Regions from separate parts of the Homo sapiens genome. Here regions 1, 2 and 3 are each linked to region 4. Evidence: fine-mapped expression QTL. A gene starts in region 4. Each other region holds a variant in brackets. All regions are shown on one strand. Distances are between the middles of the regions.

What was found.
Region 1: its variant is fine-mapped to the expression of DPF3 in testis (GTEx, PIP above 0.99).
Region 2: its variant is fine-mapped to the expression of DPF3 in whole blood (TOPMed, PIP 0.99).
Region 3: its variant is fine-mapped to the expression of DPF3 in tibial artery (GTEx, PIP above 0.99).

The regions. Positions count from the first base shown.
Region 1 is chr14:72,816,218-72,823,910 of GRCh38, reverse strand. The region is part of intron 1 of DPF3 (double PHD fingers 3); the gene reads left to right. Among named protein-coding and RNA genes, the nearest start is that of DPF3, 74 kb to the left of the region's middle. The variant A/G (reference allele first, on the strand shown) is at 4,587.
Region 2 is chr14:72,515,120-72,522,812 of GRCh38, reverse strand. It overlaps RGS6 (regulator of G protein signaling 6), which reads right to left. Exons shown (of 18, transcript NM_001204424.2): 15 at 4,276-4,462. MIR7843 (microRNA 7843) reads right to left here and starts at 5,993; the gene lies at 5,915-5,993. RefSeq lists enhancers at 2,995-3,084, 3,175-3,324, 3,795-3,864, 7,542-7,693. The variant A/C (reference allele first, on the strand shown) is at 3,511.
Region 3 is chr14:72,807,744-72,815,436 of GRCh38, reverse strand. The region is part of intron 1 of DPF3 (double PHD fingers 3); the gene reads left to right. Among named protein-coding and RNA genes, the nearest start is that of DPF3, 83 kb to the left of the region's middle. RefSeq lists an enhancer at 4,424-5,623. The variant A/G (reference allele first, on the strand shown) is at 2,725.
Region 4 is chr14:72,890,487-72,898,179 of GRCh38, reverse strand. It overlaps DPF3 (double PHD fingers 3), which reads left to right and starts at 4,079. Exons shown (of 11, transcript NM_001280542.3): 1 at 4,079-4,123. The coding sequence starts at 4,092. LOC107984711 (a long non-coding RNA gene) reads left to right here. Exons shown (of 3, transcript XR_001750998.1): 3 at 535-809. RefSeq lists an enhancer at 3,825-4,119.

The sequences.
Region 1 (7,693 bases), 74 kb after region 4:
CTGGAAGGAAGCATAGCATTTTCTGAGCTCCCTAAGCATAGATCAGCCTCTCCCTATTTCTCACAATGATTGCCACTGGGTGCCTGTCCCATAGATGAAGGTAAGAATGGAGTTTCCTACTCTCTGTTTTATTGCAAACAAGTATCCAGGGTAAATGTGATTTTTAACACATTAAAACACTCATACACCTCCCTAGCCCCCAATTTTTCCTTGTTCTCAAGGTAACTGCTTAGTTACATTCCAGGGAGTGGGAGGAAGCCAAGAAAGAATTCTTAGTCTTGGGGAGCAGGATCGAGTGCAGAAATGTCTTGGAAATGGAAGATTCCCCTGACTCCTCGCCACGCAATGCTGCAGCCCGTATATAACAGTGGGCGAGCTCCCCCTCGCCGCCTTGCTTATCTCTACTTCACATTCACAGACTCACCAGCCTGGAGTCTCTCTGGATGTTGGCCAAGCCAGTTGGGAATGCATAATAGCTGAGATATGGGATGGGACGCGTCCGCCATGTCCTTGCATGCTGCAGTGAAGGTCTCCTTCTCTCCCTTGTTCCTCCCTCGTAGCCTTTTCTCTGGTATTGGGAAGTAATCTTTCTGGTCTCACATCTCTAATATTTGAAAGAAGGGAGACCTAGATTCCATGTTGGCAGCTGGCTGTGCTAGTAATTAGGGACATCCCTTGGAGAACTGGAGGGAGGTTTGGGTGAGCAGATTTAGACCAGATGGCGTCCAGCTAGCTGCCATTTTGAAACCTCAGCTACAGGGCCTGGTGAGCTTAAAACCTTCCCTGTAACCACCACCTTCCCTCGCCAACCCATTTGGTTTTTGTGACTAAAACTTTGGTTTTGCTTTAGTGTCTTTCTGTTTTGCTTTTTGTACTGGTTGCAATAGGGATGAGAAAAGGAAAGGCCTCTCAAAAGAAGATTCTAGTCCGATGGGAGCGAGGGCTTCTGGGAAATTGGGTGAGATCTTCATGAGTCATGTTGATGCTCAAAAAGTTTTGGATTTTGGAGGATTTTGCATTTCAGATTTGTGAATTTGGGATGTTCAACCTGTAGGGGGGTTAGGACTTCAACATATAAAGGGGATATAATGCAACGTATAACACTCTCTTTCCTTCTAAAAAACTCAACTCATAATACTCTCCTTCCTTCTAAGAAACTCAATCCATAACACTCCCCTTCCTTCTAAAAAAAAATCTGTGTTTTTGTTTTTGGTGGTGTTTTTTTGAAAAAGAAAAACCTGTATATGGTAAAAAATTTAAACACTACAGAAAGTAATTGAGAGCAAAAAGTAAATCTAAGTCTCTGTCACCCCTGTTTTCACATCCTCAGACCCTAGTCTTTCAGTATAGACTTACCTGTTTTGTTTTTTCTTCTGTATCTTTCTGGTGATGTTATATAAACATAAATATTTATGTGTCCTTTTATTTTTTTCTCCCTTCAAATAGTAGCATTCCAAGTGCCCTGTTCTGCACCTTTAAAAATTTTTTAACAATCTAGGACATAGATTATTTTATTTTATTTTTTTGAGATGGAGTTTCACTCTTGTTGCCCAGGCTGGAATGCAGTGGAGCAATCTTGGCTCACCACAACCTCCACTGGCTTCCAGGTTCAAGTGATCCTCCCACCTCAGCCTCCCGAGTAGCTGGGATTACAGGCATGTGCTACCACGCCCAGCTAATTTTTTTGTATTTTTTAGTAGAGATGGGGTTTCACCATGTTGGCCAGGCTGATCTTGAACTCCTGATCTCAGGTGATCCACCCACCTTGGCCTCCCAAAGTGCTGGGATTACAAGCCACTGCGCCCAGCCTAGGACATAGATTAGATCTGGCCTGTTTTTAACAGATGCATAGCATTTCATTGTGTGGACATACCATGATTTATTTAATTTCACCTCTTTTTTTCAATACAAGATCTCACTCTGTCACCCAGGCTGGAGTGCAGTGGCGTGTCATAGCTTACTGCAGCCTTGAACTCCTGGGCTCAAGTGATCCTCTGACTTTAGCCTTCTGAGTAGCTAGGACTACAGGTACACACGACAGTGCCTGGCTAATTAAAAAAAAAATTTAGTGGAGATGAGCTCTCGCCATGTTACTCAGTCTAGTCTTGAACTCCTGGCCTCAAGCAGTCCTCCTGCCTTGGTCTCCCAAAGCTCTGGGATTACAGGCATGAGCAAGTACACTCGGCCTAATTTCACCTCTCTTGATGAACATTTAGATGATTTCCAATATTTGCTGCAATGAAACAATTTGTTTATGTGTTTCTCTACCCATAAGTGTAAGTCATCTACACATCTCACTCCTTTCTAAGGTTCTTATATAGTGTATACGTTGAGTATATTTGAGAAATATTTATTAAGTTTGTACCATGGACAATATTCGATAGTTCATCATATTGATGCCAGCGTTTACTCAACCTAGTGGCTTATCCTAGATTGTTTCTTGCTAGAAACAAGGTCAGTAATAAAAATTCTTTTTTGTCCCTTTTGTTGGTGGAGAATGGGGTCTTGCTATGTTGCCCAGGCAGGTCTTGGACTCCTGGGCTTAAGCTATCCTCCTGCCTCTACCTTGTTAAGTGCTGGGATTATAGGACTGAGCCGCCATGGCCAGACTTGTTTTTTCTTGTTTTGAGACACAGTCCTACTCTGTTGCCCAAGCTGGAGTGCAGTAGTGTGACCTCAGCTCACTGCAGACTCTGCCTCCCAGGCTCTGCCTCCCACCTCAGCCTCCCAAGTAGTGTGCATGCCACCACGCCCGCTAATTTTTTTTTTTTTTTTTTGAGATAGAGTTTCACTCTGTTGCCCAGGCTGGAGTACAGTGGCGTGATCACAGCTCACTGCAACCTCTGCGTCTCAGGTTCAAGCGATTTTCATGCCTCAGCCTCCCAAGCAGCTGGGATTACAAACATATGTGCCACCACACTCGGCTAATTTTTGTATTTTTGGTAGAGATGGGGTTTCATCATGTTGTCCAGGCTGGTCTTGAACTCCTGGTCTCAAGTCATCTGCCTGCCTCAGCCTCCCAAAGTGCTGGGATTACAGGAGTGAGCCACTGTGCCTGGGCTAATTATTAAAATTTTTTGTAGAGATGGAGTTTCATCATGTTGCCCAGGCTGGTCTCGAACTCCTGACCTCAAGTGATCCTCCCAGCTTGACCTCCCAAAGTGCTGGGATTATAGGTGTGAACCACAGTGCCTGGCTGAAAACTCTTGCCTGTAAATCTCTAATTTTGATCATTCATCTTTGTTTATTCCTTAGCACAGGTTTCTAGAAGTGGGTCAAATAATCTGAAAATTGTTAAGGTTTTGGGTCTTAACTTTAATGTTCCTGCTAAAGCTTATATAATAGTGTTCCAAATTGTGTTCTAGAAATGTATCAATTTATATTTTTACCAGAAGAGTGCTCATCTTGTCCTACAATACTAGTATTATCATTAAAGTAAAAACAAAACAAAAATTATCATCAAAGCAAAAAACAAAAACAAAAAAACTCATTTGATAGGTGAAATTTGCTCATTTGGTTTGTGAAATACAGTATTTCATTGCTTTAATTTTAACCTGTTTATTAGATATTCTTATTTCCTCTTTTGTGGCTTTTCTGTGTCTTTTGGCCATTTGCCTGTTGAGGTCTTAATGCTTTTTATATCAATTTGCATGACATTTTGTATATTAAGAATATTAATTTGTCATACATGTGGCAAATATTTTCCCCAGTTTGCATCTTGACTTTTAAAAAGTTCTTTTAAAACTATGGTATAATTTACATTCAATAAAATGTACTCATTCAAAATATATAGTTCTATGAATTTTAACAAATGTGTATACCCATGTAACCACAATAGAATATTATTATTATCCCCAAAAGTTCCTTAGTGCCTCTTTGTACTCACCCCCTCTCTGTAACTGTAGATTAATTTTGCTGATTCTAAGAGTTCATGTAAACACAATCATACACTATCTACCTTTTGTTTTTTAATAAGACAAGTTCTCACTTTGTCGCCCAGGTTGGAGTGTAGTGGTGCAATCTCAGCTCACTGCAACCTTTGCCTCCTGGGCTCAAGTGATCCTCCCACCTCAGTCTCCCTAGTAGCTGGGACCACAGGTACATATCACCACACCTGGCTAAATTTTTGTATTTTTAGTAGAGATGGGGTTTTCCCATGTTGCCCAGGCTGGTCTTGAACTCCTGGGCTCAAGCAATCCACTCGCCCCAGGCCTTCCAAAGTGCTGGGATTATAGATGTGAGCCACCATGCCTGACCACTATCTACTCTTTTGAATCTAGCTTATTTCACTCGGCCTTTTAAAAAAAAAGTCTTATCCACATTGTTGTGTACATTAGCAGCTAATTTTTATTTTTATTTTTTTCAGTCCTGATACCAATGCAGTAACATCTTTTTTTTTGCTGAGTTTTTCATCATATGAATTTTCCAAAATATTGTAATCATTCACCAGTTGATGGACATTTGGGTTGTTTCCAGTTTTTGGCTATTATGAATAAAGTTGCCACGAGCATCTGTGTATGTCTCTTTTTTGACATACCATTTTCCCCCATTTCTTTTGGATAAATACTTAGTAGTGAAACTTCTCA[A/G]TCATATGGTAAATGCATGTTTTTAGAATAAGCAGCTACCATACTATTTTCTAAAGTGGTTGCACCATTGCATATTCCCGTCAGCAGTGGCTGTGCTTTTGGTTGCTATATATTCTCACCAGCAGGTGACATTACCAGTCTTTTGAATTTTAGCCATTTTAATGGGTGTGAACGGTAGCTTACTGTAGTTTTAGTGGGCATTTCCCTAATGACTGATGATGCTGAGCATATTTTCACGTGCTTATTGGCTATCTTCTTTTGTGCAGGGTCTGTTCAAATCTTTTGTTGTGTTGTTTGCCTTATTACTAAATTGCTAGAGTTCTTTATATATTCTGGATATAGATCCTTTGTCATATATGTATGTATGTACATGTATGTGCTATATATGTACTGTGTATACATGTATCTATATACTGTATGACTATACTATGTACATATATGTACTATGAATCATTTCTCCCAATCTGTGGCTTGTCTATTCATCCTCTTAACAACATCTTTTAAAAAAATTGTAGTAAAATATACGTAACATAAAAGATGCCATTGGAATCATGTTGAGTATTTAGTGGTGTGAATTATACTCCCATTGTTGTACAACCATATCTCCTATCTTAAACAATGTCTTTTTAATTTTTAAATTTTTATCTTTTTAGAGACAAGGTCTTTGTTGCCCACACTGGAGTGCAATGGCATGATCAAAGCTTACTGTAACCTCGAACTCGTGGGCTCAAGCAGTCCTCTCGCCTCAGCCTGCGATGTAGCTGGGACGGCAGGCATGAGCCACCACACCTGGTTAATAAACTTCTTTGTAGAGATAGGGTCTTTCTGTGTTTCCCAGGCTGGTCTGGAATTCCTGGTCTCAAATGATCCTCCCGTCTTGGTCTCCCAGTGTGCTGGGATTACAGGTATGAGCCACCACACCCAGCATAACAATGTCTTTTGAAGAGCAGAAATTTTTAATTTTGAAGTCCAGGTTATTTTTCCCTTTTGTGATTCTTATTTTCTGTGTCCTAAGAATCTTTGCCTACACCAAGGTTATGAAGATTTTCCCCATGTTTTCTTCTGGAAGTTTGTTTTTTTTTTTGAGGCAGAGTCTCGCTCTGTTGCCCAAGCTGGAGTGCAGTGGCTCGATCACTGCTCACTGCAACTTCTGACTCCTGGGTTCAAGGGATTCTTGTGCCTCAGCCATTTGAATAGCTGGGATTACATGTGTGTACCACCATGCCCAGCTAATTTTTGTATTTTTAATAGGGGTTTCACCATGTTGGCCAGGCTGGTTTCAAACCCGTGACCTCAAGTGATCTGCCCACCTTGGCCTCCCAAAGTGCTGGGATTACAGGCCACCGTGCTTGGCCTTCTTCTGGAATTTTTCTAATTTTAGCATTTCTTTCATTCTGTGATCCATTTTGTTATTTTTTGTGTACAACATGAAGTAAAGGGTATGTTTACTTTTAAAATATGGATATCCAGTTAAAAGAAGTGAAAATAGGTAAATGTTAACTATTATTCATTTTATTCTCCTCTGATTTACTCCATTGCTATGTAGCCTAGAAATTCCAGCCCCATTCAGCTATCAGATAGATATTCATCTATATAATCTGGATTTTTTTTAACCTCAATTCTTTGTGTGTGTGTGGTTTTTGTTGTGAGGTGGTGTCTTGCTCTGTTGCCCAGGCTGGAGTGCAATGGTGCAATCTTGGCTCACTGAAACATCCATCTGCTGGGTGGGTTCAAGCAATTCTCCTGCCTTGGCCTCCTAAGTAGCTGGGACTACCGGCTTGCGCCACCATGCCTGGCTAATTTTTGTATTATTATTATTATTTTTTAGTTGAGACGGGGTTTTGCCATGTTACCCAGCCAGGCTGGTCTCGAACCTCTGACCTCAGGTGATCCACCCACCTTGGCCTCTTAAAGTGCTGGGATTACAGGTGTGAGCCACCGTGCCCAGCCATTAACCACAATTCTTTGATTCACTTGGAATATATTTAGGTTGATGTAAGAGCTGGGGGTCTAGTTTGATTCTTCCTACCCCCATAGCTAATTAAATAGTGGGAAAGGGAGTTCCAGATATAGTGGGGACATAAAAGTGGGAAGAGAGTTGAGTTTTGGGAAACAGGGCCATTTAGGCTTACCTGGGTTGGTGAGTCATGGGAGACAAGCTGGAGAGCTTCACTGGGGCAGCCCGTGGAGGACCCCTGGACGCTGTCCCCCCGGGGCTGTGAGCCTCTGAGAGAGGTGATTGGAGTGGTGCTTTTGCATCATGTAGGTTGGCTCTGACTGAGGAGAGACCGGAGGGATGAGGAATGAAAATGGTTGCTGGTGATTTCTAGCTTCAGAGGGGGGCAGATGGCAAGAGAAACTGAGGATGAGATGGTGGGTGGAGTAGAGAATTGCCTGTTCTTGATTTCAGAAAGGGTGAAGCTGGAAGGAGGAATTAAAGATTGATCTTGATATTCCAGTTGGAATGTTGAGTATAACATCTCTGCTTTAACCAGAAATAAAAGATGACAGGAGGAGAAACTGGCTTTTCAAGGGGATGAAGTTGAAAAGTAATGACAATTATTCACTTTTGGAGAAAATTTGTGACATTTCTTGAGAGTATAATCAGAACAGTTCCTTATAATTTGCATAGCATTTTAACATTTCCAAAGTGCTTTTACATACTACTTCCTTTTTTTTTTTTCCATTTATGCCTGATGTATCAGGATAGGCAGGGCAGGTATTACCCTGTTTTCCATCCTGCAGATGAAGGAGGGGAAGCTCAGCTAGGTGGGGGGTTTGCCTGAGTTTTGTTCTGAGTCAATAGGCTCTTCTGGTATCAAGGGGTGGGTTGGGGGTAAGGTTCTGATCTTGGCTTCTACCCACTTGCTGTATAAGAAAGTACCTCAGCTTTCTGAGGGTTGGAGAATGTGGGGTGGAGAATATCTGCACCATTAGACTCATACGATGGAGAAGGCCAGATAACATAACGTAAGTGTAAGAATGCTGATGAATATAAAACAGGATGCAAATGTCAATCTTATTAAGGTTATGATGTTATCCTGCTGGAGCTGGGAATCTGTTGGTCCCAGGGTGGGGAGGTGGGGAGGCCCAGGGTTCTGCCTGGC
Region 2 (7,693 bases), 380 kb after region 4:
TTTATTTAGCACAGGGTCACAAACTACAGTCTGTGATTCAAATCTACAGATACAGACCTGTGATCTAGATCTTTACATCCCATGAGCGAAGAACAGTTTTTATGTTTTTAAGTGGCTGAAAAAAACTAAAAGAAGAATTGTATTTTGTGAAAAATTATATGAAATTGGATTTCACTGTTCATAAATAAACACAGCCATAGGTCCTCATTTATGTTGTTTACATTGCTATGTTGTTGCATTGTAGCTGCTTTTGTATGCAGAATCGAATAGTTGTGACATAGACCACATGACTCACAAAGCCTGCAATGTCTACTATCTGGCTCTTTTTAGGAAAAGTATAGTTTTTTAACTGACCCCTGTTTTAGGTAAAAGGCAGGTTACAGGATCACGCTATTTGCAAAATCGCCCTGTTGTGGAATGAATGTTGTGTCTCCCTAAATTTCATATTGTTGAAGCCCTGATCCTCAGTGTGGTGGTACTTGGAGGTGGGTCTTTTGAGAGGTAATTAGGTTCAAATGAGGTCATGAGAGAGGCCCTTATGACGGGATTAGTGTTCTTATAAGAAGAGGAAGAGAGACCAGAGTTATAAGGACACAGCAAGAAGGCGGCCACCTGCAAGCCAGGAAGTGAGCCCTCACCAGCAACCAAATCTGCTGACACCTTAATTTTGGATTTGTCAGTCTCGAGAACTGTGATAAATTTCTGTAGTTTAAGCCACCCAGTGTGTGCTATTTTGTGGTAGCAGCCTGAGCAGACCTTACACGTAGCTACACACATAAATCAAGGAAGAAAATACACCAAAATAGGGGTTATCTCTGGGTGCTAAGGTTATGTGAAATTATTTAAAAATTTTTACCAAATACATTAAACACTACGGCTTAAAAAGAGAATATTAGTGACATTAGAAAAATAAGATGGTAGTATTTACTCTGTCTTATTGTGGGCCAGACATCGTTAGTGGTTGACATGCTTCCTTTCACCTGGTCCCCATTCCACCCCTATGTGTAGGCTCCATTGTATCCCTGTTCTACAGATGAGGAAAGGAAGACTCAGGGAATTTAAGCAACTTGTCCAAGGTCACTCTGCTAGAAAGGAACACTTTGTATATTTATGGTGGAAATACACTTCAGAAGCAATAGGAAATTGGTCTGAAAATAGGGATTGGCTTAGGAAGAGTGTTTTATTTGAATTCATGGGAGACTAATCCTAGCAGATAATGAAGAAGATGGGGATGCTTAAGACATCCTCATGTCTAGTCTAGATTGCTGTAGAAATTAGATAGAATGTATTTAGAAGTACTTGGAAAATGGTAGAGCACTGTAGGTTGGATATTGAGATACTTGTCAATATGTAACCTTCGTTAGGCTGACTTCCCCACTTCTTCCATCAAAACTTTCTTGAAGTAGAGACAACATAAATGTCCAAGAAGAGAGGACTGGTTGACTAAACTATGGTGCCTCCACACAACGGAATACTATGCAACAATTAAAGAACCAGGCGATAATCATACTGTTGCTGTATTTTTAGCATTGTGGTTTAGAGACTGCTCTGTGTAGTATAAAGCAAATGAGTAATTATGCTATCATCCAGTGCCCTTGAAAGTCAGGATTGTCAGCATAGAGAAAAGAGGCACAGGTGTAAGAAACAAGCGGTTAAATAAAATCCCCTGTAGGTCAGAATTTGAATTAAAAGTATCAGTATGAACTCAGGATGTATTTTTATTATAAACAGCAACACATTTCCTAGCTCTGTCGACTGAAAAGGGCTGGAAATGATAAACAATCCAGGAACAATGAAACACTCTAAGTGCCTAGATTTTAGTCTCTAAATACCATTTCTCACTAAGAGGAATCAGGGATCCTTGGAGAAACAGCTTATTCTGGGTAAGGGCAAAGACTGGAATATCTTAGCTTCCCTGCTATTTGGATGATGTCAAAGATCACTCTTAGGGCTGTGTCAGAAAGAGCCAACTGGCCAGAGATGGCCCAATCCAAGCATCAATAAAAGTAATCAGCAAAATGGATTAAAACATAGCATATATGTTTAAACTCATGAGTTTACAAAGATAGTAAAACCAAAATAGACCCTAATGTTTACCATAGGAAGATAATAGCAAACCACTCATTTTGAAAACTGGCAAATGAAGGGAGAGAATCAAATATTTATCCTGCTTTTCTTATGTGAATTGTACTGCTAGTTAATACCATAGTGGTGGAGGGAAGTTTCTCTTTATGAAAGTATTCCAGCTAATAAGTGAAGAAAGAATAAAATTAGTACGTTGTTGTTTTGTAACCTCTAATTAACTAATGGATATAAGCGATAGACATCAATATCTGCAAAAAGGTCAAAAAGAGAGGTGGCTAGACATGTGCCTTCTGATAGGAGAGCACCACACAATCCATGAAGTGGTTTTGTCCATAAAAATCAAACCTAAATCTGATTAAATATCTTATAAAACGAATTTATAGGAAAGAGAGATGATAGAAGAACATGCTAAATAGCACCACAGGGCTGCAATCAGAAAAATCCAGAGCTTGGAACTCTTTACAGGACAAAGGATCTAAATCCTTCATCAAATAAATTGCAAGGGGATGTGAGGAAGGGAGGGAGATAAAGGATATTGTGGCAATATTAAAACAAAAGGATCTTTTTTTTAGAGATACATATCTAAGTTTACAGATGAAATGATGCAACATCTTGGATTTGTTGTAAAGTAACCTGGTGGCAGGTGAAAAAGTAGATGGGGCTAGAGATAAAGCAAGATCAGACGTGTACTGATGATTTTTGAGGCTGGATGAGGGTCTATAAATGTTTGCTGTTTTGCTGTTTCCACTTTTCCAAGTGTTAAAAGTTTTCATAATAAAAAATTAAAATAAATCCCTCCTGATGTCATGCTTGGAGTGTTAATACTGTGCTAGATGCATCAAGGTTTTGACCAGTATCCCTCTTCTTGTGTTTCATAAATATTGGAGTTTGAGCTTCAGCTTGTTCATGCAGGGAACCCCCACGGAACTCCCCTGTCACTCTCCTCTCTGGCCATGTCAATATGGTGCTTGAAAGCATACGTACATACACATAAGCAAAAATATCTCAGCAAAGAGCTCTCATGACTCAAACATTCTGCTTTGAAGCTGCAAGGGGTATATGAAGGAGTCATGATTTCGTGATTGGCACAGGCATTTGATGGAGCTCGTGACCAGGGGGAGAGAAGTAGATAGTTATGGTGTTGAGGTTGGTAGGTGTTTCCATCTTGAAGTTCTGAGCAAATGACAAGGTAATTCTGGATGATAAGGGACACTGTTCTCATGCCATTATTTGCATTGGTGCAGCTACACTGAGTTTCCTAAATCAGATAATAATGTCTGCAAGGGGCAAACCACCCAAATTCTCTACTGGGGGCCCCAGAGGTGAGAGAAGTAAGTGGGGTCAAGGAGATAAGCAAAATCTTAAGCCCTGTCACTGGGTGTGGGATGGTGACAGGAAATAGAAATTAGGGGCCAGGAAGTAAGA[A/C]ACCAACCCAATGCTTATTTTTAGAAATGGCACCTCCCAGCCGTCAAAATTTAGTCTGCTGGTTAGGGTGGTTCCTGTTTCTTTAGCCAGCATCACTAGCATCTGTGAGCATCTTAATTGTGTCCTACAGGGTTGGGAGTCCCTCCTGCAGGCTTGCTTTAACCTAGGGTTCACCCATTTGGGGCACTTTTCACACTGTTGAAGTTGCCCATTTACTTGTCTGTCTCCCACTCAACCTCGGTGAGAACAGGGGTTTTGCCTGTTCTTTGTGGTATCTTATCACATAGCGCAGAGCCTGGAATATAGATGTGCTTAAAAAATATTCACTGCAGAGCTGGAGATCACTGCGGAAGCAGTGTAGAGAGGTGGTTATCAGTGTGGGCTTCAGAGGTAGACAGATGTGGGTTTGACTCATGGCCCTGCTAACTCACTACACCCACTTCCCCAATGCTGTGTTCTGGTTTCCAGATTCTATCACTGACTTATTACAAGCCTTCAGATTTTGTAAAACACTTTGAGGCTTTCCTGGAACAAATAAAGCATATAACTGCACATTTTGGTTTCTATGTAATACATAACCCATCTAGGAAAACGATCCTGGGATTTTGCTGTGCGCCTATCTGAAATGGTTTCCACTGATGAACTTAAAAATAACCAAATCTGAAATTTTAACTACCCACAATGCCTTGAACTTGTGTTAATAGGTCAGGCAATGAAGGGGACAAATGAACACCTTATGACAACCACTTGAGTAGATAAGCAAACCTGGGCGTCTTCAAATGTATATCTCCCTCCATCTTTGACATTTTGACTGGTTATCTCATAGCTGTGAGAATCCAGGTTGATTGCACTTGGAGCCCCTGGAGCCAGAAACTCTTGCCAGATTTCTTCTACCCTCTTGGCCACATCCTGTAGGGGTTGTTTCTTAAGATCTTGGACAGCCAGCCAGAACCTGAAGTGGGAGCAGAAACACAGTCAGTTCCAGGGGGCTCAGCATCGGGATGTTGCCTGAGATGGCCCCAGAGCTGATGTCCCATGAAACCCATTCTGCTGCATCTCTCAGCCTGCCCTGATGCCACTACATGAGCTGCAAAGACCATGGAGATTGTGAAAACATCAAAGGTGTTCCTATGGTGCAGAACAGAAAAGAATTGCATATTAAAAGATCAATGTGCTTCTCGTTATCAGAACGGGATTTCTCTCCTTCTACATGAAGGTTTCTCAACCTCAGCACTATTGCCACTTCAGGCTGGATAATTCTTTGTTGTTGAGGCTATTCTGTGAAATGTAGGATGTTTAGCAGCAACCTTGGCCTCTACCCACTAGATGCCAATAGCAACCCCCCTTCCCAAGTTATGACAACTAAAAATGTTTCCAAACATTGCCCAATGTCCCCTGGGAGATGAACTCATTCCTGGTTGAGAACCCCAGTGCTACATACATGCCACCATGCAGACAGTGTGAGACCCTTTGTCAAATCTAGTTGGGATCAAGTGATGGCATCAAAATGGAGGAGAGATCCCAGAAGCAGGCAGTGTCCTGGAATCATAAAGACTATCTGTGTAAGAATGAACCAGCCATTCCTATTATAGATGGAGAAACTGAGCCAATTCACATCAGTGCTCAGCACGGTGCTTGGCAAATAGTAGGTGCTCAATATATGGGTTTCAGAGTGAAGACGGACGCATCTGGAGCAATGCTGAAGAGGCATATGTTGAAAACTTCTCTGCAGAATGGTTCTCCTTCTGCTGAGAGCAAGAGAGAAAAATCTGCTCACTTCCGTATTTGCCTCTGTTTAATCCCTCAGCATCCGCATGGGAGCAGTGAGCTCTTTTCTGCTGAGAGCAGCAGCAGCCAGAGCCAAAGCTTGGACAACAGCTACCGGGTCTTAAGGATGGTTCCCAAGGCAGCCTTGCAGCAGGATCCAGGTCTGGGTGTCATATCCTTTGCCCTGTGCATGGACAGGCCAGCTCCCCCATCAGTGAGTAAGAGAGTAGGTCCTGTGCTGGTTCCGAGAGCAGCGGGAATCACAGGTAGTCTAGTCAACAGAAAGGGAGGGACAAGCGAAGCTGAAACATGACGTGGTGGAAAGTGCAGACAGTGCATTCAATCTGTCATCAAATTTCATCCAAAGTAAGATGTACTTGTTTCTTTTTTTTTTTTTTTTAGGGTTAAACATGTTTTTCTGTTGCTGTTCAGAGAAATGTCTTTGGAGCCAAGTGCATGGCCCAAAGGTGCCACTCAGTGGCAGACTGGAGTAATGCAACCCAATTTCTGCAAGGCAAGACGACTGTGTGTGTGTGTGTGTGTCCCCAAATGCTGGGCTCCAACTCTTCCCCTGATTTGCCATTTTTTGCCATTTAGGATTCTGATGATCTCCTTAAAGGAACCTCTCAGCGACCCTGCAGAGCCAAGCGTAAGGCAGAGAAGGCTTCATGACTTCCATCAGATCAGGAAGCTGGCTCTGCCCTCATCCTGTCTACGCCATATCTTGCCTTGGTGTACCTTTCTGGGTGCCTCTCTCTTCATCTGTAAAATGGGCACTGAGTGGATGGAGGGATATGTGGCATGGCTCTGGAAAACTTCCTATGCAGACTTAACTCAGAAATGCTTTCAGGTCCTGTGAGGGGGAGCTGAGGAGGGGTCAGTGTGGTGGCCACAGGCTCAATGCTGGCCCAGTGTGATCCCTCGGATTCCAGCCTTCTCTCCGCAGGTGGCCTGGGCAGATGCTGCCGCCCAGCTCTTGCTGCTGCCATCTGGTGTCCCCTGCCCTTCCACAGCTCTCTGACAGCCACAAGTCCTGGGTGCTCAGGTCCTTCTGGCTTCTGGGTGAGAGGAAAGCAGTCGTGTTTCTTTATCCAGAGTCCAGAGAGGGTGGGGAAGGAAGGGCTTGAAAGGAGCTGTTCCCCTACCTCATTGTTCAGGTGGGCCCTTGACTCTTGAGCTGGGGCATGGGTCTCCTCCATCTCCCAGGCCTGCCCTAGGTTCTGTAGGGCTCTCTGTCCACTCTCTCAGGTCTGCTGTGAAAAGAAGGAAGTGGCCGGGAGGCTTGCCAAGTGAAAATGGCCATCTGCTGGTGAGAGTACCTACAAGGCTTTCTCTGCCTGGAAGGCCATGTCTGACCAGTAGGTGAAAGATGCGGGGAACCTGGCTCTATAGGAAGAAGCCAGTGTTGGCTTTTCCAAGGCCCAGAAGGGGTCAAATGTCCAGAGACGAAGTCAGTGAGGCTTCCTCAGCCCCATGCTAGGCAGACAGGAGAACCAGGTTCACAGAGGGAGGCCGTCTGGGCTGAATCCCTGGCTGGAAGCAACCTTCTGGGTCAGCGTCTTCCCACGCCCCCTGGGCCCCTGCAACTTCTCACACAAATGGATGACACCTGGGTGATTTCCTGCCCCCTCAATCAATGCCACATGGGAGGTCACTTTCTGTCACCTCTGTCAGCACTGAGGAGGAGCTGCTGAGCCCCTGTGGGAAGGCCCTGAGGACCCTGGGAGCTCTGCAGGCTCCCTGCGGTTCCTGAGGGCTCAGGGTCCTTTTTGCAGGATGATTTGGGTGCCACATGAAAATGTACATCACTCAGCTGGATATAGAGATGACCGGAGCTGATGGAAATACAAATTTCATAATCAATTTTTTTGAGACAGGGTCATGATCTGTCACCCAAACTGGAGTGCAGTGGCTACATCTCGGCTCACTGCAACCTCCGCCTCTCAGGTTCAAGCTATTCTCCTGCCTCAGCCTCCTGAGTAGCTGGAATTACAGGGGCATGTCACCATGCTCAGCTAATTTTTGCATTTTTAGCAGAGATGGGGTTTCACCATGTTGGCCAGGCTGGTCTTGAACTCCTGGCCTCAAGTGATCCGCCCGCCTTGGCCTCCCAAAGTGCTGGGATGACAGGCGTGAGCCATTGCACCAGGCCGCGGAATCAAATTTAATAAACTTTTATGTAAAAATAAAAAGGTTTTCTTTGTCACATAAAACCAAGAATTTTTTTAAGTACAAGTGAAAACAACAGGCATGCTGGAGGAAGAGGAAGGGGAGGGGAGAGAAAGGGAGGGAAGGAGGGGGAAAGGGCAAGAAGGGAGAGGGGGAAGGTATGGGGTAACATTCCCTAGACAGCAGTTTTCTCTCCCTGCACACACTGGGGACTCTCCCTGGCCTTCTGTCTGCCTTGGAGTTGACC
Region 3 (7,693 bases), 83 kb after region 4:
AAAAGAAATTGCCAAACTGCTTTCCAAAGTGGCTGTACCAGTTAGCATTCCCACACGCAGTGTGTAAGAGTCGTAGTTATTCTATATCCTTGCCAGAGCTTGGCATTGTCAGCCTTTTAAATTTTAGCCATTATAATAGATGTTTAACGGTATCTCATTGTGATTTTAATTGCATTTCCCTGCTAACTAATAATGTTGAACCTTTTTTTTTTGATGTGCTTTTTGGCCATCTGTATCTTTTCTTTTGTGAAATGTCTGTTCAGTTCTTTGACCTTAAAAGAAATGGAGTCATTTGTCTTCTTATTGAGTTTTAGGAGTTCTTTATATATTCTGACTAAACATCCTTTATCAGATATATGTTTTGCAAATATTTTCTCTCAGTCTGTAGCTTGTGTTTTCATTTTCATATTAGTGCCTTTCAAAGAGTAGACATTTAAAATGTTGGTGAAGTCCAATGTATCAATTTTTTTCCTTTACGACTCATGCATTTTATGTCCTATTTAAGAAAATTTTTGCTTAACCCAAGGTTAGAAAAAGTTTCTTCCAAGTTTTCTTTCTGAAGTTTGAAAGTTTTAGTCTTCCATTTAGCTCTACGATCCATGTCGAGTTAATTTTTTTTTTTTTTTGGAGACGGAGTCTCGCTCTGTCGCCTAGGCTGGAGTGCAGTGGCGCGATCTCGGCTCACTGCAACATCTGCCTTCCCGGTTAAGCAGTTCTCCTCAGCCTCCCAAGTAGCTGGGCTTACAGGCACCTGCCATCATGACCAGCTAATTTTTATATTTTTAGTAGAGACGGGGTTTCACCTTGTTGGCCAGGCTGGTCTCAAACTCCTGGTCTCAAGAGATCCGTCTGCTTCAGCCTCCCAAAGTGCTGGGATTACAGGTGTCAGCAACCACACCCCGCTCAAGTTAATTTTTATCTAGGGTATGAGGTAAGAATTAAAATATTGAAAAAGTTCTTTTTGGTAATGTCTTTAACTGGTTTTGGTATCAGGGTAATTCTGGCCTCATCAAATGTGTTAGCATTGTGCCAGGCACTGTAGAGAATATAAAAGTCAGATCTAATCCCTGCTGGACTCTCTCTCTCGCTCTCACACACATCCCCCAAGTATGATGAAGGCAGAGTTTGGTGAGCATAGAAGAGAAGTGCATATGAACTGCTATGGGCTTTCAAAGAAGGGTGAAGGCCTGGGAAGCCTCAGAATCATCTTCATGAAGGAGGGACACTCAGGAAGGGCCTTAGGAGGGCTGCACCATTGCCTCACTCTGGGGGCACCATTCAAATGACAGTCAGTTGAGTGATCCAGGGCCACGTCGCCTGCAACATGGAGGGTACCCGTCTGGAGTTTTTAAAAAAAGTGGCCCTGCTAAACAAGAAAAGGTCTACTAGCTGAGAGACTATCAGCCGGTAGAGATGGGGAAAGGTGGGTGGGGTGGACAAGAAACCATGTACTGGGCGAGAGAGAATTCTATTAAAGTATGCCTTTGCCTCGCCAACCTCTGAATTAAACTCCCATTGTTCTGCATCCTTCCCACACTGATTATGGTGCCGGAGGGCCCTGGAGAGGAAGGTGGGAAGGAGGGGGACCAGCCGTCATGGAGCCCCTCATCTCTGTGCTCGAGCCCCAGCATCCATCATCTCATTTAGTCCTCTCACCAACTCTGTAAGAGCAGCTTCATTATTTGCATTTTTGCAGATTAAAAAATGAGATTCATAAAGGTTAAGTGCCCTGCCTGGGGTCAGCCGCTAGTGAGCAGGGGAGCCTAGTTGCAGTCCAGCCCCCTGGCTGCCTTTGGCCCCTGCAACACTATCTCTCACTGCTCTGACAAAATGTCATTTCTGAGGAAGGCAGGCACACAGACCCAAAAGGAATGGGTGCCGGGGGGGAGGCCAGGATGAGATATTTGTGAGTGGGTTTGTTCTGATGTAGCAAAAACTCTCTCGTTGCTGTGGGCTGGGAAGTGGCTGACTGGCTGCGTGGTCAGAGTTTGCAAAGCTTTTGCAGATCCTTTTGCTAGAGGGGCTTTAAAAGCTGCAAGCGCTCAGCAGTTCCTATCAGCTGGGATTTTTTTCCTCCAGATTGAATCCTGTCAGGGTTTTACTGGCTCATCTGTTCCCAGAATGACACCATGTCCCCTCACCTGAGCAGCACGGCCTTGCCACCCACGGTACTCCCTGCTACCAGACGGCTCCCGGAAGGAATTCTTCACCAGCCCTATTTTTTGTCCCCTGAACCCCTCTCCTGACTCTCTCAAAACCCTCTGGTTTCTCCCAGAATTTGGAGCCAAGCCCATCAGGGACAAAGGAATGCTGGGACCTTGTTTGGATCTCAGATTTGGTGGTTTGCTCCCCTTCCTGGTGTCATGGTTTGAAGCATTTTCGAAGGAGCCCCCGAAAAGCAAGGACAGTGTGGAGAGGCTGATGCCCAGAGGCGATGCGGTGTGTCTGGGAAACCAGAGGGGACCCTGCCTGCAAGTTCCCATTGCCCCCAACCCCATTCCTATCCCTATGAGCCCCTGGCCCTTCTTCGCCAGTGCCTGTATCCTCAGAGCCCTCTCAGGGAGCCTCACCCGCCAGCCTCTGGGCGTTTGGCTTCCCGTCTTTTGTTTGGTCACCATGGGCCCTGCCACTGCCAACTCAGGCAAACAGAGCTTGGGCCAGCCCTGGGCTGCCCAGCCTCCCGGACGCATTGCACACTGCTCTGTGTCAGCAGAAAAAGTGTAC[A/G]TGACAAGTGGCATACTAGAGCGCCCTCTCCCCCCAGGCCTAGCTACAAAGCCTCCATGCCCTGCTGAGCCCTGCCCACCGGGCCCAGCGTACTCTCCGTACTCTCCGCTCCGCCAGCAGTGTTTCAGGAATCCTGAGGTGCAGCTCAGGTGGCTCTCGGTGACGTCATGGGAAGTGTTCTGGGTCGGTTCCCTTTGCCTCCCTGCCTCCACCTCCTTCCCAGACTTGCCGAGGATGTTGCCTCCAAGCCCCTCCCAGCTCCCAAAATACCAACCCTGCCTCCTGGCCCTGCCAGAAAACGCTTAGCACATTAGCGGGTTTAGCTGCCACAGTGGCAGTCAGTTGGGAGGCTGCAGAGGCACATAGATTTCATTCTGGAATTCTTTCCAGCTCCTCGCTATTTTGACAACACTGGGCAATGCTGTTACCAGGAACCTGCCCTGCCTGTGGGATGGGAGAGGCTGGGGGCCGGGGGTGGGGATGGGAAAAAGGTAAGCGGGGCTGGTGGGAGCAGCCTCAGGGTAAGGGACTATGAGAGAAGGTGGGGGACTACACTGGTATCTCATGGTGCTGCAGCCACTTTGGTCTTTAACTTGGTCTTTAACATGGCTGGCCTCCCTCCTTGCCTCCTGGAGCTCACTTGGGGCAGATCTTAGATACAAGAGACCTCAGTGCAGGGGCTTCTGTTTGAAGGAGGCAAGAGGTTCCAAGACGGCAGGAGAGGCAGCAAGACAGGCTGAAAGAAAACAGCCACACCAATGTTGTCTTGGACTCAAGACTTTACTGCAGCTCCCTCTCTGCCGCTCCAGGGCTGGGTGCCCTGGAGCAAGCCACCAACTCTCCAAAACTCAGTGTTCTCATCTGCAGAATGGGAGTAACCTACAGCTTGCCCTTCCCATCTCAATGTGAGATGGGGGGATCTACAAGAGACAATATATGTGAAAGTGTTTTGCAAAGTGTAAAGTGACTAACATTTGTGTGCCTAGGAGCTCTGGAAGGCAGGGCCTATGTCTTGTTTATATTTGAATTCCTCTATCATGTCTGGTTTATTGGGTAGAAAAATAAATGTGGAGACTTTTTGGAAATTTCTGACTTGCCTCATTGGTGATCGGTGTGGTGAAGGATAGTAAGGTTCTGGGTGTATTAGTTTGTTAGGGTGGCTGTAAGTGCCACAGACTGGGTAACTTCACAGAAATTTATTTTATCATAGTCTGGAGGCTAAAAGTCCAAGATCAAGGTGTTGGCAAGGTTGGTTCCTTCTGAGGGCTGTGAGGAAGAATCTGTTCCAGGCCTCTCTGCTGGCTTCTGGGGCTTGGCTGGCAGTCTTATCTTTGGCATTCCTTGCTTTGTAGGCACATCACCCCAATCTCTTCCTTCATGGGGCAAACTTCCCTTTTTTATAAGGACACTAATTGATATGATTTGAATGTTTGTCCCCTGCAAAGCTCATGCTGAAATGTGATTCCCAATGTTGGAGGTGAGGCCTGGTGGGAGATTATTAGACCATGAGGGTGGATCTCTCACGAATGGCTTAGCACCGTCCACTTGGTGATGAGTGAAGTCTCACCCAGTTAGTTCACACAAGATCTGGTTGTTTGAAAGTCTGGGACTTCCCACCCTTGCTGCCTTGGTCTTGCTCTCACCATGTGACACGCCTGCTCTCCTTTTCACCTTCCGCCATGATTGTAGCTTCCTGAAGCCTCACCAGAAGCAGATGCCGGCACCGTGGTTGCTCTACAGCCTGCAGAACTGTGAAATATACCTCTTTTCTTTACAAATTACCAAGTCTTAGGCATTCCTTTATAGTAATACAAATGGACTAACTCACTAGTCCTGTAAGATTAGGGCTCACTCTATTCCAGTGTGACTTCATCTTGACTAACTATATCTGCAATGATTCTGTTTCCAGCAATGACAGTCTGGGGTCTTCTGAGCCCAGGGCCCAGCTCCAGGATCGGGAAGGTCAAGGCAGTGTGCCAGGCCTGGCTGAGAATAGAGAGTTCTTCTGATGAAACGTGATGTGGGTGCTTGCTGGGTGGGGGACCCTATTTTCTACTGCCATTCTTGGATTTGGAGGCAGATCTTTGTTTCTTAGAGTTATTCTTTTCCCTTTCTGAGTAGTTCCTGTGAAGTAGAGTCATGCCATTTGTGTGTGAGACCCAGCTGCTGCACCAGTTCTAACTCTTCACCCCCTTCTTTTTCATGCCCCTCTTTCCCTTCAAGTCACTAACCCCACACACGCCCACCTTCCTCTGCAGCCCGGAAGCTCGGTACACATTTGCTGACGTATTAGAACACACCCTGGCATGAATGTGATTCACATTCTCCGCCCGTCTCTTCCTTCCTCTGTGTCCTGGACCGCAGGCCCTTGCAGTGCATATCTCTGACAGGGGAACCCCCACTATAGGTGTGCTCCCATTTAGCCTGGGTTCAGGCACATCAATGAGCATGTTCTGAGTTGGAGGGATGGGGCGGGTATGTTGCTGGACCACAGCACTGGGATGTTGTGGGAGGGCACGGAGGTGTCTCAGCACTCCGCTGCCCTCTGTATCTGAGGCTTCATTGCCCTTATTCGCATCTTCCCTATGAAATGCTCCAGTTTAGTAAGGGATTGCTATGGAAGAAGGCATTTGTACAAGTCACCCCTGAATAGTAAGAGGGGATCTTCTCTTATAGATTCTCAACATGTACAGGCACAGTGCTAAGTGCTTTCCATCCTTTTTCTCATGTATTTCTCTAAATAACCCCAAGAAGCAGACGCTTTTATATCCCCATTTCTCAGATGGGCAGTTGAGGGTTTGAAAGGAGATGTAAACTGCCCAGAGTCATTCAGCTAGTGAGGGGACTCAAGCACTTGCTTCTAGAACCTCTAGTTCCACCCTCTCATCCACAGGGCGCTCAAGGGGTGGTCAGTGGCCGTTTGCATTGGTATTCCCTGGAGAGCTAAGTGAAAAGTTGGGTTCTTGGGTCTCCTCCTGATCTATGGAATCATAAGAGATTGGGGTGGGACCCAGGAACCAGCTCCCAGTGACAAGCAGGGCTGAGAATCACTGCCTGTGGAGCCCAGTGCCACCTTCCCTTTCTCTTCCACCAGGCGCCGAGGACCTGCCATCAGCCACATGCAGGGTTCTGAAAGGAAGGGCAGGTGTGACCAGGCCTCCCCATGCACTTCTTTCCTCCCTGGTGTAGTGGCCTCAGGAGTGCTGGTGGATGGGGAGCCATCATGCCTGCACATAAGTTGGGAGAGGGTGGCTTGTGTGGCCGTGCTGACCTGCCGACTTCTCACTCTTTCTGGTAACCCCCATGCCCTTCACCGGTGCCATGTTCCCCAAGGTCCTAGATGATGGAGGGACCAGGCCTGGTGTTGGCAGGCAGTGGCCAGGGCCAGGCAGCCCAAGCCCTGTGTGACGATGATGTGGGAGTGTCTGTCTGTGTTGCTGTAATGGAATACCAGGAACTGGATCATTTATAAAGAAAAGAGATTTATTTAGCTTATGGTTCTGCAGGCTGAGAAGTTCAAGGGCATGGCCCTGTCCTCTGGCGAGGGCTTTCCTTCTGCATCACAACATGGCAGGGAAGGTCAAAGGGAAAGTAGACACGTGTGAAGATGGGGAAACCCAAGGGGGCCCTGGTGTTTTAACAACCAACTCTCCAGGGAACTAATTCATTCCTGTGAGAACAAATCCAGTCTTATGAGAGTATGAATATTAGAGCTACAAGGCACTGCCAAGTTAATCTTGTCTAGAGGGCCAGATGAGCAAACAGAGGCTCAGAGAGGTAAAATCACTTGCCTGGGTTCGCACAGCAGGTAGGTAGTATGGTTGGAGCTAGAACCCAAATTAGTAGGATTGCTCCTAGACTCCTAAGAATGCCAAAATCCAAACCATAGCTTCTGAAAACAGATGTCCTTACATGCCCGGAGACCTTTGGCTGGTTTCCTGGTAGAAGAAGCTGTTCAGACCCCTCTCTCTTTCCGGTTCCCTGCTGCTTTGTGCTACTGGAGGGAAGCAACAAGCTGGTTTTTCTCCTCCCAGAATAGGAGGCATCCCTGAAAATGTTGGCCTGGATTTCCAGGCTGACTTTCTAAACACTACCTCATCCTAAGAGTAAATGGCGAACTATTTTCACACACTATTAAAATTTTAATTTGGAAGACTCCTGTCCTTGGAATGCAAAGTTCGCCAGGCATTTTACGTCCTGCAAGCTGAGGTAGTTACTAGAACCTTCTTGCGGGTCCTGCTTGTAAGTCCCACTTGTAGTATTACACCAAGGACTGGTGGGATTTGGACAGCAAAGTGACTCTTACTATTTGAGTTCGAAATGTCCTGCTTGTTTTAAAATGTTCACTCAGTTAAGGTTTCTTCTTCTTCCCTGTCCCTGCTCCCACTCCTTCAGAGCAGGATGTTTGGATGCTGTAGTGGGAGCTGGTGGTGAAAAATTAAAGTTATTAATGTGACCATCCATCAGATGGTCCTACATTTCACCTCGGTTCTGCTGGTCTCCAGCCCTGACCCTTACTCCATTTCTCTCTTCCTGCTTCCAGACCTCCAGTCCATCTTTGATCCTTCCCTTTCCTAGTTCTCAGTCCATCCCTGACCTCTACCCCATTCCTAACTCCCACCTTATCCTTACCCCATCTCTGAGCTTATCTTTTCCCATCCATCAGGTCAGGCTGGGGGTGACCCTCAGGGAGGGAGGGAGGGCATTTGTTTCTCACATTACTTGTTGTTGTTGTTGTTGTTGTTTTAGAGACAGGTTCTTGCTCTGTCGCCCAGGCTGGAATGCAGTGGCGTGATCATAACTCACTGCAGCCTCCAACTCCAGGGCTCAAGTGATCTTCCTGCCTCAGCCTCCTGAGTAGCTAGGACTATGTATGTGCCACCAAGCCTGGCTAATTTTTAAATTTGTTGTAGAGATGGGGTCTTCCTATGTTGACCAGGCTGGTCTTGGTCAACAAAGCAAAACCCTG
Region 4 (7,693 bases):
GAGATCGGATCACTGTACTCCAGCCTCAAAAAATAAAATAAATAATTAAGAAAAAGAGAGATGGATGTCCTTTTGGCTTAGGTTCTTGGGTCCTTGGTTGTGCCCAGTGTTCCTTCAAACGGATGGCATTCAACAAATACTTGAGCTGGGCCAGGGAGTTTCACTCACTGACATCAAGGGTGAGTTAATATGGTTGAGAATGGTCCCCACACTTCTTTCCCTGGTGACACACACTTCTTATATGTTTTTATTGTACAGTGCAAAAAGGCAGATCTCTTCATTTTATTGTACAGTGCAACACTGTACAATAAAAATACAATGCCATCCACATGTACAATTTAAAATTTCCTAGTGGCCACATTAAAAAAAAGTAAAAAGAAATAGGTGAAATTAGTCTTCATAACATATTTTCTTTAATCCAGTAAATCCAAAATATCATTTCAACAAATGATCAATGTAAAAATTATAATGAGATATTTTACCTTCTATTTGTCCTAAGTCTTTGAAATCAGGTGCATTGTTTTATACTTACAGCGCATCTCAATTGGGAGTAGCCACATTTCAAGTGCTCAGTAGTCACCTGTGGCCCATGGCTCCTATATTGGACAGTGAAGCTCAACATTCTCCAGGTGAGATGTGGAGGTGATTATTCTGGGGCCACTCTGCTCTCCAAATTAAGCTGCCTAACTAGCTAAATCAAGATAAAAGGGATAGAATACAATGAAGTGTATTCAAATATATGAATAGCTATGGAGCTTTAGAAATGGGATTTTAGGCTATGGGTGCGGTAGTTCATGCCTGTGATCCCAGAACTTTTGGAGGCTGAGGTGGGAGGATCATATGAGTCCAGGAGTTTGAGATCAGTCTGGGCAACATAGTGTTACCTGGTCTCTACAAAAAATTAAAAAATGAACTGAGTATGGTGGTTTGTCCTGTGGTCTCAGCTACTTGGGAGGTTGAAGTGGGAGGATCACTTGACCCCAAGAGTTTGAGGCTGCAGTGAGTTATGTTGAGCTGTGTTTGCACCACTGCACTCCAGCCTGAGCAACAGAGCAAGACCCTGTCTGAAAACAATAACAACAACGACAAAAAACTCCAGGGCTTTGGGAGGCTGAGATGGGTGGATCACCTGAATTCAGAAGTTCGAGACCAGCCTGGCCAGCCTGGCCAACGTGGTGAAACCCTGTCTCTACTAAAAATACAAAAAATTAGCTGGACGTGGTGGTGGGCACCTGTAATCCCAGCTACTCGGGAGGCTGAGGCAGGAGAATCGCTTGAACCCGGGAGGTGGAGGTTGCAGTGAGCTGAGATCACACCACTGCACTCCAGCCTGGGCAACAAGAGTGAAACTCCGTCTCAGAAAAAAAAAAAAAATTTAAAAAGTGTTTTGGTATCACAATCAGCAAGAAGCCTTTTTTAGGGTTATATAGTTATGTGACCCCTCATTGAAACATCATTCTTATTTATTATTTTATTCTAATCCAAGTTGTCCATTTGCTCATTTTTCTTGGATTAATGAGTTTAGAAAACTAAATGTGATGGCTAATTTCACTTTCTGTTGTGCCTTGTTTTTTGGATTCCCTACATTCCATATGCCGTAAGGAAAGAATTAATTATCTCTGTAAGAAATAATAACATGGATTGAAAGCTTGCTGTGTGTCAGACACTTGACATGTATTACCTCATTTAATCCTGGCAAGTAAATATGCCCAAGGTAACCCAGCTGGTAAATAGTGGACTCAGGCTGGTAGATTCCAGAGCTCATACTTCTGCCATGTACAGCACTATGAAATTGCCCCAGAACTGCCAAACTTCTCCAAAACTGTTTAAGGATACTGTCCTCTTTAAACATGCCTACTCTTTGCTTTTGAACCTTCTGGTTAAAAAAAAAAAAAAAAAGAAATCTTTATATTTTGATCTATAATGTAAACATTAAAGTAAAATAACTCTTTTGTTAAATATAAGTGTTTCTTTAAAAGTCATAACTGTATTGATAGAGTTAAAATGACATTCCATTGGGTTACAAAAAGCAAGGCTATCCTTTTTTTTTTTTTAAAGTACTGTCTTTAATTCACTATTTTCCAATCCAATCAATAAATCTGATCTGACATTTTCAAGTTCGTTAGGTAGTTAGAGATTATGCTGGTTTCTGCATCCAGGCCTTAACACAATAAATGATATGTACATGCTTAGAGTATGTGTTTTCTTTAATATGTAATATACATTTGTTTTTTCTCTCTTCCCCCATTGTAAATCTTGTTCAGGACATGCTCTACATTTCCTCCTTTATCAGGCTGCATGTAAGAAAATACGTTGTCGTCTACTAATCTGAATTGTTGTGTCTTTGATACCTCAAAGAGGTTATTGGGAGTTCTAACTGATAATTCAAACTCATACTTCTTGGGTCAGAATACAGTTCTTGCTTTTCAATGATGTCAAGGCCCACCTCAGGCAAAGTATAGGCTTCTGAACCAATTTCTTGTCAAATTAGTAAAGAAGGGATTTTTCAAACTTCAATTTTGGAAAAGGAGATAACTTTTTCAAACTGTAATCTCTGCCAAGATGCTATGCAAAGGATTTACAAAGGAATCTATAGAACTCAATTCTGCTTCTTAAATACGCAGAGAGGAGTTAAAGATTTCAAATCTTTTAAAAACATAGTGATTCAGCCACGTTCTGTTTATCTGTAAATCTAATAGTGTATGTAGTTGAACTCTTAAAATTCTGGAATGTTTATTTTATTTTATTCATTGTCTTGAGAGGAGCAAAAGGAAGCGAGAGGGCATAGCTTTGAAGAACTGGCAATTTGGCAACTTCTCTCCCCTTGCCACCCCTCCCCCACTATCTTAGCTATTTGATCTGATTAAACAGCTTTGGAATGGTAGCCAGACTTCTGTATGCTAACGAGGCCCCTACCCTATTCGCGATTTAATGCGATTTCATCCCCCCAGAGCTTCCCGGTGCCCAGTGGAAGCCTGACTTCGCAGAAGTCTCCCAATTTTGTCAGGGGCTCGCCAGTGAAGAGTTCACACTGACTTGAAGCAGACACAGACTCATTGGACGCCTCGGGTCACATCGGATTATTCATTAGCAAATTCTTTCCACCTTCTATCTAAGTAGTGAAAGGTGACGCCAGAATCGCGTGTGCCACTCCTCTAAAGGGACCCTGATAACACCCAGTCCAGGCTCTACAACTTCTGCCTAGTCACTTGCTTCCTAGCAGTAGAAAGTTTCCAAAGGTTGCCTTAAGTCCTCCCTACCCCTAAGCCTAAAGATCAGAGCTCCAGGTCCCACCACCTAGCAGGAATCTGAGCATTTTGGAAGTTTCTGGTGTAGAGGGAAGAACCGAAGGGGTGGTAGCGGGGAACCGCGCAGAGTAACCCCCCTGCACTACGTAAGGAAAGCCCTGGCTGCAGGAGGGAGCGAGCCTGACATTGAGACGTTCCAGGGGGAGGGTGAGTTGCTGTCCTGGAGTCGCCAGGAACAGCAGCGACAGTTCCAAGAAGCGAGAGAGGAAGGTGGCCGAGATAAAGAGAACACTTCGGGAATAAGAATATTAAAAAGCGGCAGGACCCAGAGCATTAGCAAACGGCAGAGCACATGTAGTAATTTGTTAACACGAAACGGCAGCCTTCCAACTTTTGCACTGAAACACGGGGATTTACCCTTTGGGGGATTAAAAATGTTGATACGCAAAGCCAAAGGCTAATGAATAGGATTCAGTGGCTTGCTGGCAATATTTAAATATTTCTGTCCGGGAGCGCAAACTCTTCTGCAGTTATTTAGAAAAGTAGGGAGTTAAACCAAACTATAATACTCTCCCGTGCGTCTCCACTTTCCCCAGCCCGAAAAGGAGCTACCAGCGCTGTACTGCCCCTTTAAGACCTGCTGGCTCTCGGGCTCTACAAAAGGGAGTGACCTCTGGGCTTTGACAGCTCTCCTAATAACTACCACGGCGCAGGCCCCGCCCACCTAGCTACCAGCAGCGCCGATTGGCCGGCGGGCCGGTATCCCGCGCTGTGATTGGCCCGTCGCTTCCCCTGAGCGAACCTTTAGAACTCTGAGACAATATTCTGTTACATTGTAGCAAAATGGCGACTGTCATTCACAACCCCCTGAAAGCGTAAGTAAGACTAAAAAATGTACATATTCCGCGTGGTTTCAATATGAAAAAAAAGGCGCCTTCTGCGTGGCGAGCGCTGCCAGAGCATTGCGCTTGCAGGCGCCTCCAGCCGCGGCGGGGCTTCTCTCTTCTTTCAGCTCTTACTTCTTCATCTTCTTTTTTTCCCCCAACGCGCAGAAATGTCAGGAGATGCAATTAACAAGAAGAAAATTGTTACATTTGTGTTCTGCTAAATTGCAGAGAGAGCCAGATATAGGGGTTGCAGGCGGAGAAGCCCGGCGCTCGAGCGCTCTACAGCAGGAGGGTCGCGGGAGCTCGGGGACGGCGCGGTCCCCGGAGTCCCCCGCCTCGCGGGCAGGGAGCGCGGCTTCGGGGGCTGCTGGGCGGGGGGCGAGCGTCGGGCAGTGGCCGCCTCGGTGTACTTGGCCGAGCCCCGCGCCCCCGAGCCCGCGGCCCCCGCCCCGCCGCTGGGTCCGCTGGGTCCAGCGGACGGACCGCGGAGGCTCCGGAGTTTGCAGGGCGCTCTTCGCCTTCCGATCGCTCGCGGGGAGTTTGTGCAAACCTTCCGGAGTTGGAGCACCGCGGGGGAAGCAGCGGGTCCCGGGCGTGCTGGGGCCCAGGTGGTCGCCCCGGGCTTTCCCCGGCAGCCCCCGGATCTCGGAGGCGCTCCGGGCGATCGAGCGTGTGTCTGCTCGTGTATTTGCGAGCGAGCTGGCTTTAGTGGATTAACGACTCGGGTTAACTTGGGGTGGATTTGGAGGCAGGGAAGCCGCAGGTCTTATGAATGGTGTTCTCGCCACCTCTGGGTGAGGCGCTGAGGCAGGCGGAGAGGCGGTTTTGGGGCTCCTGGCCCGAGGGGGCAGCGTCTGCTCCCGGCCGGGCGAGGGGCAGGTGCCTCTGGCCGCCTCGGGGAGACTTTGAGCGCTTGCCCAGATCCTGGACAGAGTGGGGCGGGCCGGGCGAGGACTCGCGGGGGCCAGCCCCGGGTCCAACAGCCAATTTCTGCCTGCCTGCCTTCCTCCTCCTTTTCATCCTTCCTTCCTTCCTTCCTTCCTTCCTTCCTTCCTTCCTTCCTTCCTTCCTTCCTTCCTTCCTTCCTTCCTTCCTTCCTTCCAGTCAGTGGAACTGTTAAGCCGCCAAGTCCGCTCGCGATCGCGGAGCCAGGGGTGGCCTCGGAAAACTAGTGTCGCTCTGAAAGGGGTGCTATTGGGTGATGTCGGCAGAGGGTGGCTCCCTCCGTATCCGAGGTGGGCTGGGGGGTCCTCACCCCTTCGACCGGGACTTCCCCGCCCGGACGAAGCCGCAGGCGAAGTGGCAGAGGGAGGTGCAGGTCGGGTGGGGGGCGGTTCATGCCGAATTCTCCCTGGTGCGTGGCCGCTGTCGACCCTGGTTCTTTTAATTCAGCGCATTCTCGTCTTCACCCCTGGCCACTCCTGGAGTTGAAAACCAGGTTCGCTCCCGGGGACGGTAGGGGGTTCCTAACGCAAAGGAATGCACAGGGAGAATCGGACGTGTTTGCGCCAGCTCGTCGCCCATCAGAAATAGGGAAAGGGGTAGGAAGGCCCCAGGTTTCAAATATATTTATATGAAAGCTGCCGTTAAGAGGACGTTGGAAGCTGAGGCTGATCAGATAGGAGCTCCTGGCTTCAGTTCTGGCTCGGAAGCTCGGATACACTGCGCTTGAACGCCACAGCGTTTCACCCAAGAAAGAAAATGTTTTATGGCAGAATAAATGGGCGTAACTTCGCCGCATCCTCGCTGCCGGTTGCTTTCGCTGCAACACCGCTGATGCTGTTTCTACCGAACCCACAACTGATTTTCAGTTTCCCCATTTCCAGCCGAAATCACATAACCGGGCTGATGCCACCTGGTAAACTCAAGTTAGAGAACCTATTTCACATGTGCACCAGGTTTGTTTCCTCCTGGGAAAGCCGTACCCTAGTTACCCGGGAGCCCGCTTTCGCGCGGGCGGGCGCAGTATCTCTAAGCTTGTGTTCCCCTACTCGCTCCAGGGTTTTTTGGATCACAGTAGGGTGCGTGTTTGGGGAGGGAGTCTGTGTAGGGTGGGGTTAAGGGTGGGGGAAGGGACAGACGCGGGAAAGAAGGTGGCGGAATTCTGGCCGGTTAGTGGAATTAGTTCTGAATTGTACTTTGTATAATTAGAAACAGTTGCAACGTGATGTATTTGTAATTGTGTTGCCACCCACATGCAGACACTAGCATACACACAACGCCCCTGCTTGCTTTTTCTAGGTGGGAGTTGCTTGGTCATTTATAATTAGCTATTCCTTTCTGCTTCCCAGACCCTTTCCCTGTGAGTAAAGGGGTATAAACAATACCACTGACCAGCCCAGCCTCTCACACCCTGGACAGTTTTTGACAACTCCTAACGCAGGAGCACACACGTTGTTATTGGGAGAGGGACACCATCTGCCTTTATTTTTTTAAAAATAACTTGTTTAATAAAACATCTTATATATTTCATTTGTTTTTAAAAGTTGCTGATCAGGAAACAATACACACGTGAATAAATTATGCATGGGATAAATTAGAACAAAGTGCAGAGACACATCCAGCCGAAGGGATGGTGGTGGTGCAGGGAGGAGGGGTAGCGGGGAGAATGGTTTGGAGAGCTATGTTTTTATCCTCATGTGTCCCTCCTGACAATGAAACAGAGCTGAACGACATTAGCATTTTCTCTGTGTGCGTTCTGAGTCTCTCTCTTCCCTCCAAAAAAAAAAAAGCCAACACCACGGACGTCTCCTACAGAAAATGGTCACACAAAGGTTTCCTCAGGATGGGGGGATAAAGTGGTGGTAGTTAATGTGTTGGGAAGAAACAAGCTCAGATTTCCAGCAGCACCTATGCAGGGCTCTGCCTACGCTGAGTATGGGCTATTTTTCACTGTACTAGCTTTTTCCACGTGGGACATTCAATAATTCAATTAGCTGGGGTGATGGGATGGCACAATTTTGAATCTCATTGCTTTGGGGTTTTCCTTAGGGTCCCAAGCTCCTGAAGCCACATCTCCTCTCTTAGCAATTTGGCTTTCTTCCTGCCTGTCTTTGATCTCCCCTCAACTCCCTTTCTTTTTCTTCCTTGTTGTACCCTTCACCCCCTTCCTCTCTGAAGCTGACAGCCCAGCTTCTCTCTCTGTTGTCGCCTTTAACATCTTATTACTGCCCAACAGGGTGTTAGAGGCAGAAATAGGAGCCGCCTGCACTGATCAGATCACAAAGGGGACACGGCAGGTGGCCCCCACAACCAAGCAGTCACATCTGGACAAATAGAATTCAAAAGCACTGGTGGACATGTATGATGTGTAAATGTGTATTACATATTATTTAATTTAGCAGCTACATTGTCTGAGCAAAGATGTATGAGAGTTACCCTCATTTCTTACATATACAAGCGAGATAAGGCCCAGGTAGTGAAGTAAACACATGCAGGTAACATAAATATGGATTTGATAAAGGCCTGCATGTAGATTAGTCACGTTCTGGTTGATTTGTGCATACCTGGGAAACATAATGCTATTATTATTATTATTATTATCATTATTTTTTGAGA